Regions from separate parts of the Homo sapiens genome. Here region 1 is linked to region 2. The links come from fine-mapping of genetic effects on gene expression. A gene starts in region 2. The other region holds a variant in brackets. All regions are shown on one strand. Distances are from middle to middle. Region 1 overlaps LCMT1 (leucine carboxyl methyltransferase 1). Region 2 holds the start of LCMT1 (leucine carboxyl methyltransferase 1).

What was found. PIP is the estimated chance that this variant, and not a neighbour inherited with it, causes the effect.
Region 1: its variant is the best candidate, but not a certain one, in a credible set for the expression of LCMT1 in whole blood (INTERVAL, PIP 0.55).

Annotation. Positions count from the first base shown.
Region 1 is chr16:25,136,510-25,140,509 of GRCh38, forward strand. It overlaps LCMT1 (leucine carboxyl methyltransferase 1), which reads left to right. Exons shown (of 11, transcript NM_016309.3): 4 at 3,662-3,738. Among named protein-coding and RNA genes, the nearest start is that of LCMT1-AS2, 11 kb to the right of the region's middle. The variant A/G (reference allele first, on the strand shown) is at 1,848.
Region 2 is chr16:25,109,621-25,114,119 of GRCh38, forward strand. LCMT1 (leucine carboxyl methyltransferase 1) reads left to right here and starts at 2,122. Exons shown (of 11, transcript NM_016309.3): 1 at 2,122-2,376. The coding sequence starts at 2,264. LCMT1-AS1 (LCMT1 antisense RNA 1) reads right to left here and starts at 1,935. Exons shown (of 3, transcript NR_120306.1): 1 at 1,776-1,935. RefSeq lists enhancers at 1,545-2,072, 1,850-2,179, 2,270-2,429.

The DNA.
Region 1 (4,000 bases), 27 kb after region 2:
TGTGCAGGTTTGTTACATAGGTACACACATGCCATGGTGGTTTACTGCACCCATCAACCCGTCAGAGTCTCACTCTGTTGCCCAGGCTGCAGTGCAGTGGTGTGATCTCAGCTCACTGTAACCTCTGCCTCCAAGGTTCAAGCGATTCTCCTGCCTCAGCCTTCCGAGTAGCTGGGATTACAGATGCGCACCACCGTGCCTGGCTATTTTGTAGAGATGGGGTTTTACCATGTTGGCCGGGCTGGTCTTGAACTCCTGGCCTCAAGTGATCCACCACCCTCAGCCTCCTAAAGTGCAGGGATTACAGATGTGAGCCACCGCGCCCCACAGGATGTCTTTCTTAAGCGCTCCGGGTGTGCCTTTTGTAAGCTTTCTCTGCTCTGACTTCTTATTCAGAAGTTTTACAAGGTTCTAATGCATGGGAAAGCTCTTTAAAAAGGAAGAAGTCCCATAAGAGCTGCAGGGCACTATGCTGTCTTTCATTTATATACCTTTAATTGTTCTCATTGTCTTCTGGAATTTTAGGTGATCCTTAACTTCCCATATGCTGTCAGTAAAAGTTCTTAAAAGGTGTTGTAGAAATTGAAATTCCTAGTGAAAGTTATTTCCATATCCCCCTACCCATACCAATTCTCCTGCCTCAGCCTCCCGAGTAGCTGGGATTACAGGCACCTACCACCATGCCCAGCTAATAGTTTGTATTTTTAGTAGAGACAGGGTTTCAGTGTTGGCCAGGCTGGTCTCGAACTCCTGACCTCAGGTGATCCACCTGCCTCAGGCTCCCAAAGTGCTGGGATTACAGGCGTGAGCCACTGCACCTGGCCCCCCTCAAGTATCTTGAAATAGCTTCTGCATAACCCTACCCAGCAGGCATGGGCTATACCTCTAAGTGTGATCAGCTCAGATTCATGAGCCCAAGTCTCCTTGGATGGCTTTTTCTTTTTTTTTCTTTTGTGACAGGATCTGGCTCGGTCTCCCAGGCTGGAGTGCAGTGATATGATCTCAGCTCACTGTAGCCTCCTCCTCCCAGGCTCAAGCCATCTTCCTAACTCAGCCTTCCAAGTAGCTGGGGACTACAGGTGCAAGCCACCATGCCTGGCTAATTTGTATTTTTGGTAGAGATAGGGTCTTGCTGTGTTGCCCAGGCTGGTCTCGAACTTCTGGGCTCACGCACTCCTCCTGCCTGGGCCTCCCAAAGTGCTGGGATTACAGGTGTGAGCCACTGTACTTGGCGTCCTTTTTTGTTTTAAAAAGATAAATCCCAGCCTGGGTCCCCTGGGATTCCAGCAGAGGACTGGTCTTTATGTGGGAGGGTGCTGTATCTTTCAGCCCTGATGTTTGCTCTTAAGGGTCATTCACCTACTAGGATATGGTTACTGGTGATTTCTGCCCCCATCATGCTGTCCACAGGAGGTCTGCTATGCCGCACTCACCCCCCCGGGATTCATCTGTCCCTCTATACCTGTGCTCCATCTCTTGTTACTGTCTCCATGAATGGTTCTCTTACCTGCCCAGTTGCTCCAGTCAGAAACAAGGTGTCACCCTAACTTTCCTTTTCCTCCATCCCATCCTCTACCAGCGAAGCCATCACCAGGTTCTGGATGTCAGCAGTCTTCTTTGTTTTAAAAAAGTAGTTCTGTATTTCTGGGATAAGTGGAGAGGGGGAGAGGCTGGGCAGGTGGGCCAGGCTATAGAGTGCCTTGTTTCTTGCTGAGTTTTAGCAGTGTGCAGAGCTGCAGAAGGCCACCTGCAGTAGATAGTGCAGTACACAGCAGCGTGCAGCTTTGAGACACCAGAGGGGGTGCTGGGACAGTCTGGGCTGGAGGTGACAGAGCTCAGGAGGAGTG[A/G]AGGGATTCCAGAGGCATCAGCAGGGCTGAAGTACTGGGTGGCTGGATAGCGAGGAGGGCACCGAGAGAACACTAGGATGATAGGATGATGTGTGCGTGACTGGGTAGGGAGGGTGTAGCTACCAAGCAAGCCAGGTGACCCAGGGCTGTGTGTGCGCATGTGCGTGTGTGTGTGTGGTTGTGTGTGTGTGTATGTGTGTCTTTCATATTTGTTTGACTGCAGGCCACAAGAAGAAATAAATGTTACATCCTGAGCCAGGGCCCCCATCTCTATACCTGTGTCTGTAACAATAAAGGCACACACGTGTTGATTCAAATGCTAGAGACCTCATTTTAGGGTGCTGCTTTCCTTTGATCCCCGCCCTAGTTTCCTTCTTGCCCTGGCACCTTCTTTCCAGCACGTTGTGCAGTATTCAAAACGCAGTATACCTTCCCTTATTGTTACAGCTCACAAGCTCTTTGGATCCCCGTGTGATAATTTTACTAAGGTCAGGCCATTTCCTGTGAGCCCCACATGTATTGCCTCATTAATCTTCACAACCCCATAAAGTGTTAGCATTTTCTTCACTTTTCTCTTTTCTTTTTTTTTTTATTTTATCTTTGAGACGGAGTCTCGCTTTGTCGCCAGGCTGGAGTGCAGCAGCGCGATCTCAGCTCACTGCAACCTCCGTTTCCCGGGTTCAAGCAATTCTCCTGCCTCAGCCTCCTGAGTAGCTACTTTTTGTATTTTTTGTAGAGATGAGGTTTCATTCACCATGTTGGCCAGGATGGTCTCGGTCTCTTGACCTTGTGATCCGCCTGCCTCAGCCTCCCAAAGTGCTGGGATTACAGGCGTGAGCCACGGGTGCCCGGCTTCTTCACTTTTCAAACAAGTAAATCCTGGCCCAGTGAGTTTACTGACTTTCCCAAGACCTTACAGCATGTAAGTGGTGGAGCTGGGGTTTGAGCCACTCCAGCTCCAAGAGTGCCTGTTCTTTAATCTATCATACTTCACTATCACAGAGAAAAATGTATCAGAGGCTGGGCACCTGTAATCCTCGCTACTCTGGAGGCTGAGGCAGGAGAATCGCTTGAACCCGGGAGGCAGAGGTTGCAGTGAGCTGAGATCATGTCATTGCACTCCAGCCTGGGTGACAGAGTGAGACTCCGTCTCAAAAAAAGAAAAAAAAAATGAAAAATATATCAGAAAATAATACCCTTAATATATGTGATGCTTTTGATACTGGCTGTTTTAACCTATTTCACCCAAAAAATAATGCTCGTCAAAACCTACTACATTGATTTCCTGACCCTCCTAATGGAGCTCAAGCTGCCTTTTTTGTTGTTGTTAAATCGTTTAAACTTTTTAATTTTTTTGCATGGACAGGGTCTCGCTGTGTTGCCCAGGATGGCCTCAAACTCCTGGCCTCAAACGATCCTCCTGCCTCAGCCTTCTAAAGTGTTGAGATTACAGTCGTGAGCCACTGCACCTGGCCTCAAGCTGCCTTTTGAAAATACGGAGTATATTCTACTTCCAAAGCACCTCTCAGCTCCTCCCCATCATCCCAGCTGCCACCTGCTAGCTCAGGCTCCTTCCTGGACCTTACCTTCTTACCTGGCTGACTCCTCTGGCTTCCTGACTTTTTACCTTCATCTGTGCTTGCTTCCCTCAAATCTATTCTTGAGTAATTCGAAAAACACGTCTGCCCATATCAGTCCCCTGATTTAAAAATCCTTAAACACTATTGCTCTTAGGTGCCTAGTGCTTGATATGTGGAAGATGATCAGCACATGTAAGAGTAAAGAAATAAAAAGTATTGTGTGTTTTTCCCCAGGATGAAGATCTTCTCCCAAGTAAATATTTTGAGGTTGACTTTCCAATGATTGTCACGAGAAAGCTGCACAGTATCAAGTAAGTGTGGCATGGCCAGAAGAACAAAAGCCAGCGAGAATTCAGATCCAGCTCTCAAGAGATGGCAGATCTGAATGCCAGAGACTTCACTTTAGGGTGTTGCCTTCCGTTCACTGCCCCCCACCAACTTTTTTTTTGCCCTGGCACTCATTCCAGCATGTTCTACAGTCTGCAAAATGCAATATACATTTCCTTATTACAGATCACAGGCTCTATGGCTCCCCATGTAATTACAATTAACACGAGGCCAACCAAATCTCCC
Region 2 (4,499 bases):
CCCCAGCATTGTCTCTTGCATTAAGGTATCATTTAGCCTGAGATGGCTAAGCTTGCAATCTCCAGACTCCACGCTGTCATAAACTTTCAGATCCTCAACCAGGAACTTACATGGAATGAGCTGGCCCTGGAGGTCAGCTGGAAGATGGCCAAATTCCTCTGAATCACCAGCTATTTTGAATCAAAGGCTCATCCAACAACAAAAGTGTATAAACCCATCTGCCTCCGCCTTCTTCCAGTCACCCCCAGTCTCACTGTCCAGACCTGTGGGATTAACACCGTATAGTACTTGCTGTTAACACTTACTATCCACTAACACCCGTGGAATGTGGACACTGCTAAGCTGGGAGATGATGCTTGTGCAATAGTTTGTATTACCCTTTTGGCAAAGGACCACTCCAAGAAAATGGTGTATTTCATCCCATCAGCATTCCCCCTGGCAAAGCTCTCCACCCTTAGTCATTCCCCTCTTGTCATTTCTACTGTGGCTATCAATGAGATCTTGTGCCTCCATTAGAATACTGAGCTAGCATTTGATATTTGACCTCACTCCAAGGTGTGTATTCTGGGTTTCTGTTGTTGATTTTCTTTTTAAAAAAATGAGTGCAATTCAAAGTTCTTAAAGTATATCTGTTTCCTGCTTCCAACAACTGACAGATAACAAAATGGAATATACAAAGACATTTTTAATTTATAATGTATATTAAACATTATTATACATATACAACTTACAAGGGTTGCTTCTGGCTGGATTCTCTGCCAATCGCCCGAACACTGAGGATTCTGCTAGTTGTTCTGCCCTGAGTTAATTATAGCTATAAAATTTCATCACCAGCAAGAAACCAGGCGACTTCCCCAGTACATCTTGAATTTATACATATATTTTGTACTAGATTTAGTACAAAATAAATCCAAAACATCTTGAATATGCCTCATAATGAAACAGACACACGTGAACCCACTCCCACGTGAGAAACTGAGGATGTGTCTATGTGCTCCTTCCCTGCCTCTCCCTCCCCCTCTTGTGTGCTACCCTCCCGGCTCCCTAAAGATCACCAATATCCTGATTCTTTTTTATTTTTTTTTCTCATGTCTTGCCTTCTCTGTACAGTATTTTACCATATATGTACGTTTCTCTAAACAACATTAGTTTTACTTGGTTTGAACTTTACAAAAGTGTTGTTAGACTTCCTTCTTTCACTGAACATCGTGTTTCTGAGATTCAGCCATTGATGCTGCTACCTGGTAGCTCTAGTTCATTTATGATCGCTGCTACATGGCTTCCTATTGTATTACTTTTCCACACACTACTTCCCTCACTACATTTCTTTTCTTTCTTTCTTTTATTTATTTGTTTATTTATTTTTTTGAGACGGAGTCTCGCTCTGTCGCTCAGGACGGAATGCAGTGGCGCCACATGGGCTTACTGCAACCTCCGCCTCCCGGGTTCAAGCGATTCTCCTGCCTCAGCCTCCTGAGTAGCCAGGACTAAGGCGGCCGCCACCACGCCCGGCTAATTTTTGTACTTTTAGTAACAACGGTGTTTCACCATGTTGGCCAGGCTGGTCTCGAACTCCTGACCTCAGGTGATCGGCCCGCCTCGGCTTCCCACAGTGGTGGGATTACAGGAGTGAGCCACTACGCCCGCCCCCCTCACTACATTTCGAAGGCAATTTTGGGGGCAAAGCCCTCAGCACAGTCGCTGGCAGAGTCAGCACACAACAAAATTTTGTAAAATTGAATGACACTGAGCCCGGACTGAATGTAACAACTTACACATGTTGCTTCTGGCTGGATTCTCTGCCCTTTGCCCGAACGCTGAGGATTCTGCTAGCTGTTCCGCCCTGAGTTAATTATAGCTATAAAATTTCGCGACCAGCAAGCAGAAACCGGGCGACTTCTCCAGACACCTAAGACTACGCTTCCCAGAAAGGATTGCGATACTCTCCTACTGTTTAGTTTCTTTTTCCTATCGTCAAATTTCCGGGTTATGTGGGCGGTGCCAAAATAATTATCCAATGAGCAACTTCGTAGGCTGAGCGGGCAGGAGAATTGCTCAATGAGCGACTCGGAAGAGGAGCCAATAAGCGGAGAGGTTGCTGGGGTAGCCGGCGTGGGCGGCGTCACTGAGCCGCGCCAGCTGAGCCAGGTAGGGCCCTACCCTCTTCTGTTGCTTTCTCCCTGTGGCTCGCGCCGTCCCCCGCCGCCCGTCGACCCCGCTTCCATGTCCCTGGCGGACACAGCTCCCAGGAACCTCCACGCCCATGGCCACTAGGCAGAGGGAATCCTCTATCACCTCCTGCTGTTCCACCTCGAGCTGCGACGCAGACGACGAGGGCGTGCGCGGCACCTGCGAAGATGCTTCCCTGTGCAAGAGGTGCCTGTCGGGCGCGGGGTTCGGGGCCGGCATCTGGGGCGCGGGCCTAGGTGGGAGGTGGGCCTGCATCTGAAGAATACGCTCAAGGCTGGCAGGGATGCAGCCCCCGCCTCGCACGACCCTCGCTTCCCACCTGTGAAGTGCACGGAGCAGGGCTTCATTTATTTAACGAATCGTTTCTGAGCTTTTGCTGTGAGCCAGGCAGGGGGCCAGCCTGGGTATCGTCGATGGGAGCAGGCCCCTGAGCCAGACAGACGAGGCCTTGGGCTTCTTGGAGCTAAACGCTGCTGGAAAGACAGACATGAAGCAAATAGTAGCTCCAGCCTCGATGGGTTACGAGGATGAGAGGTGTAGGTTCTCTCTCTTTTGTAGGTTGCATTCTTTAGGGGGTTGGTGTGATCCCTGTTGTGCACCTGAAACTCAGGATGACGAGGGGAAATAACCCACCCAGAGCCAAGTAATATCTCTTTGCAGAGCCAGTACCGCACTAAGTCTCCACTGTTAAGGGTGTGGTGGTGGGGATGGGGGCGTAGCCAGCAGAGGTACGTGTCAGAGAAAGAGAAAGCTTGAGGCTTGAATGTCCACCATTTATTCTTTCATTCAACAAAATTTTTTGAGACCTTACTTTGTGCCAGGCCTTTACTTTGCAGTGGTTAGTAGGAATTCGATGGTGGAAATACACCAAGAACAAGACAGACATGGTGTCAGACATACTGGAACTCACAGCTTTGTTGGAAAAGAGAGACAGGAAGCAAATAATTACCTATGAAATATATAATTATGATTTTTTTGTGTTGAGTGCTGACAAATACGGCAGTGCCATTAGAGTTTGTAATTTTGTCAGTGATGTTTAAGGTGAGAAGAGTTTGGGCGCGGTGGTTCACGCCTGTAATCCCAGCACTTTGGGAGGCCGAGGTGGGCAGATCACGAGGTCAGGAGTTCGAGACCATCCTGGCCAACATGGTGAAACCCCATCTCTACTAAAAATACAAATATTAGCTGGGTGTGGTGGCGGGCGCCTGTAATCCCAGCTACTCGGGAGGCTGAGGCCGGAGAATCATTTGAACCCGGGAGGCAGAGGTTGCAGTGAGCCAAGATCACGCTATTGCACTCCAACCTGGATGAGAGTGCGAGACTATGTCTCAAAAAAAAAAAAAAAAAAAAGTGAGAAGAAAAGGCTTGAAAAATAGGAAAGTTGTAGGAGAGTGTTCAGAGGAGTGTGAACTGTTAGAGGAACTCAAAAAATGCTTTAAAGGTGGGAGAAGGAGGCTGAGGCCACGTAGTGATTGTAGAGTGGGGAAAACCAGTGTGTTGGATTAAACCTTGCACTTTTTATAGGTTCTTGGGGACTAAACTTTCAGAGCATGGATTCTGGAGCTAGACTCTGTCAAACTGAGCGTTGCCACTTACTGGCAGTATAAAGTCGGGGAAATTACTAAACTTTTCTGTGGCTCAGTTTCCTGATCTGTAAAATGGGGAGTATAATAACGCATCATAGGTGGGTGTGGACAAAAATGATATTTAATATTAGTAGAGCACTTGGAGCAGTGTCTGGCATGTAGTCCATGTAAGTGGTGATTGATTAAATTAATAAATACACAAGTATTAAAGTCTTAGAGAGAGTCCCTTATGAAATTTGTGAATTTGAGTGGATTATACTCAGCTTTTTCTTCTGTGGCTTTCAGTTGCTATTGGCCACAGCTGTCTTGGCTCCTGGTAACTTCCACCTGCCGGGTTCAAGTGATTCTCCTGCCTCAACCTTCCAAGTAGCTGGGATCACAGGCACACACCACCATGCCCAGCTAATTTTTGCATTTTTAGTGGAGACAGGGCTTCACCACGTTGGCCAGGCTAGTTTCGAACTCCTGAACTCAAGTGATCCGCTCGCCTTGGTCTCCCAAAGTGCTGGGATTACAGGCATGAGCCACCCCACCCAGCCTAGTCTTTTCATTTTTAAAACAGTGATAATAAAGGTAACCTTTATGGGTGTCAGGATTAAATGAGATTATCGATGCAGAGGATCTGACACAAAGTGAAGCCCTCAGTAAATTATTATTGCTAGTTTTGACTTCCCTCCAGGCTGAATATTGTTTAGTTAAAGTTGCTGAATGTGCAGTAGCTAT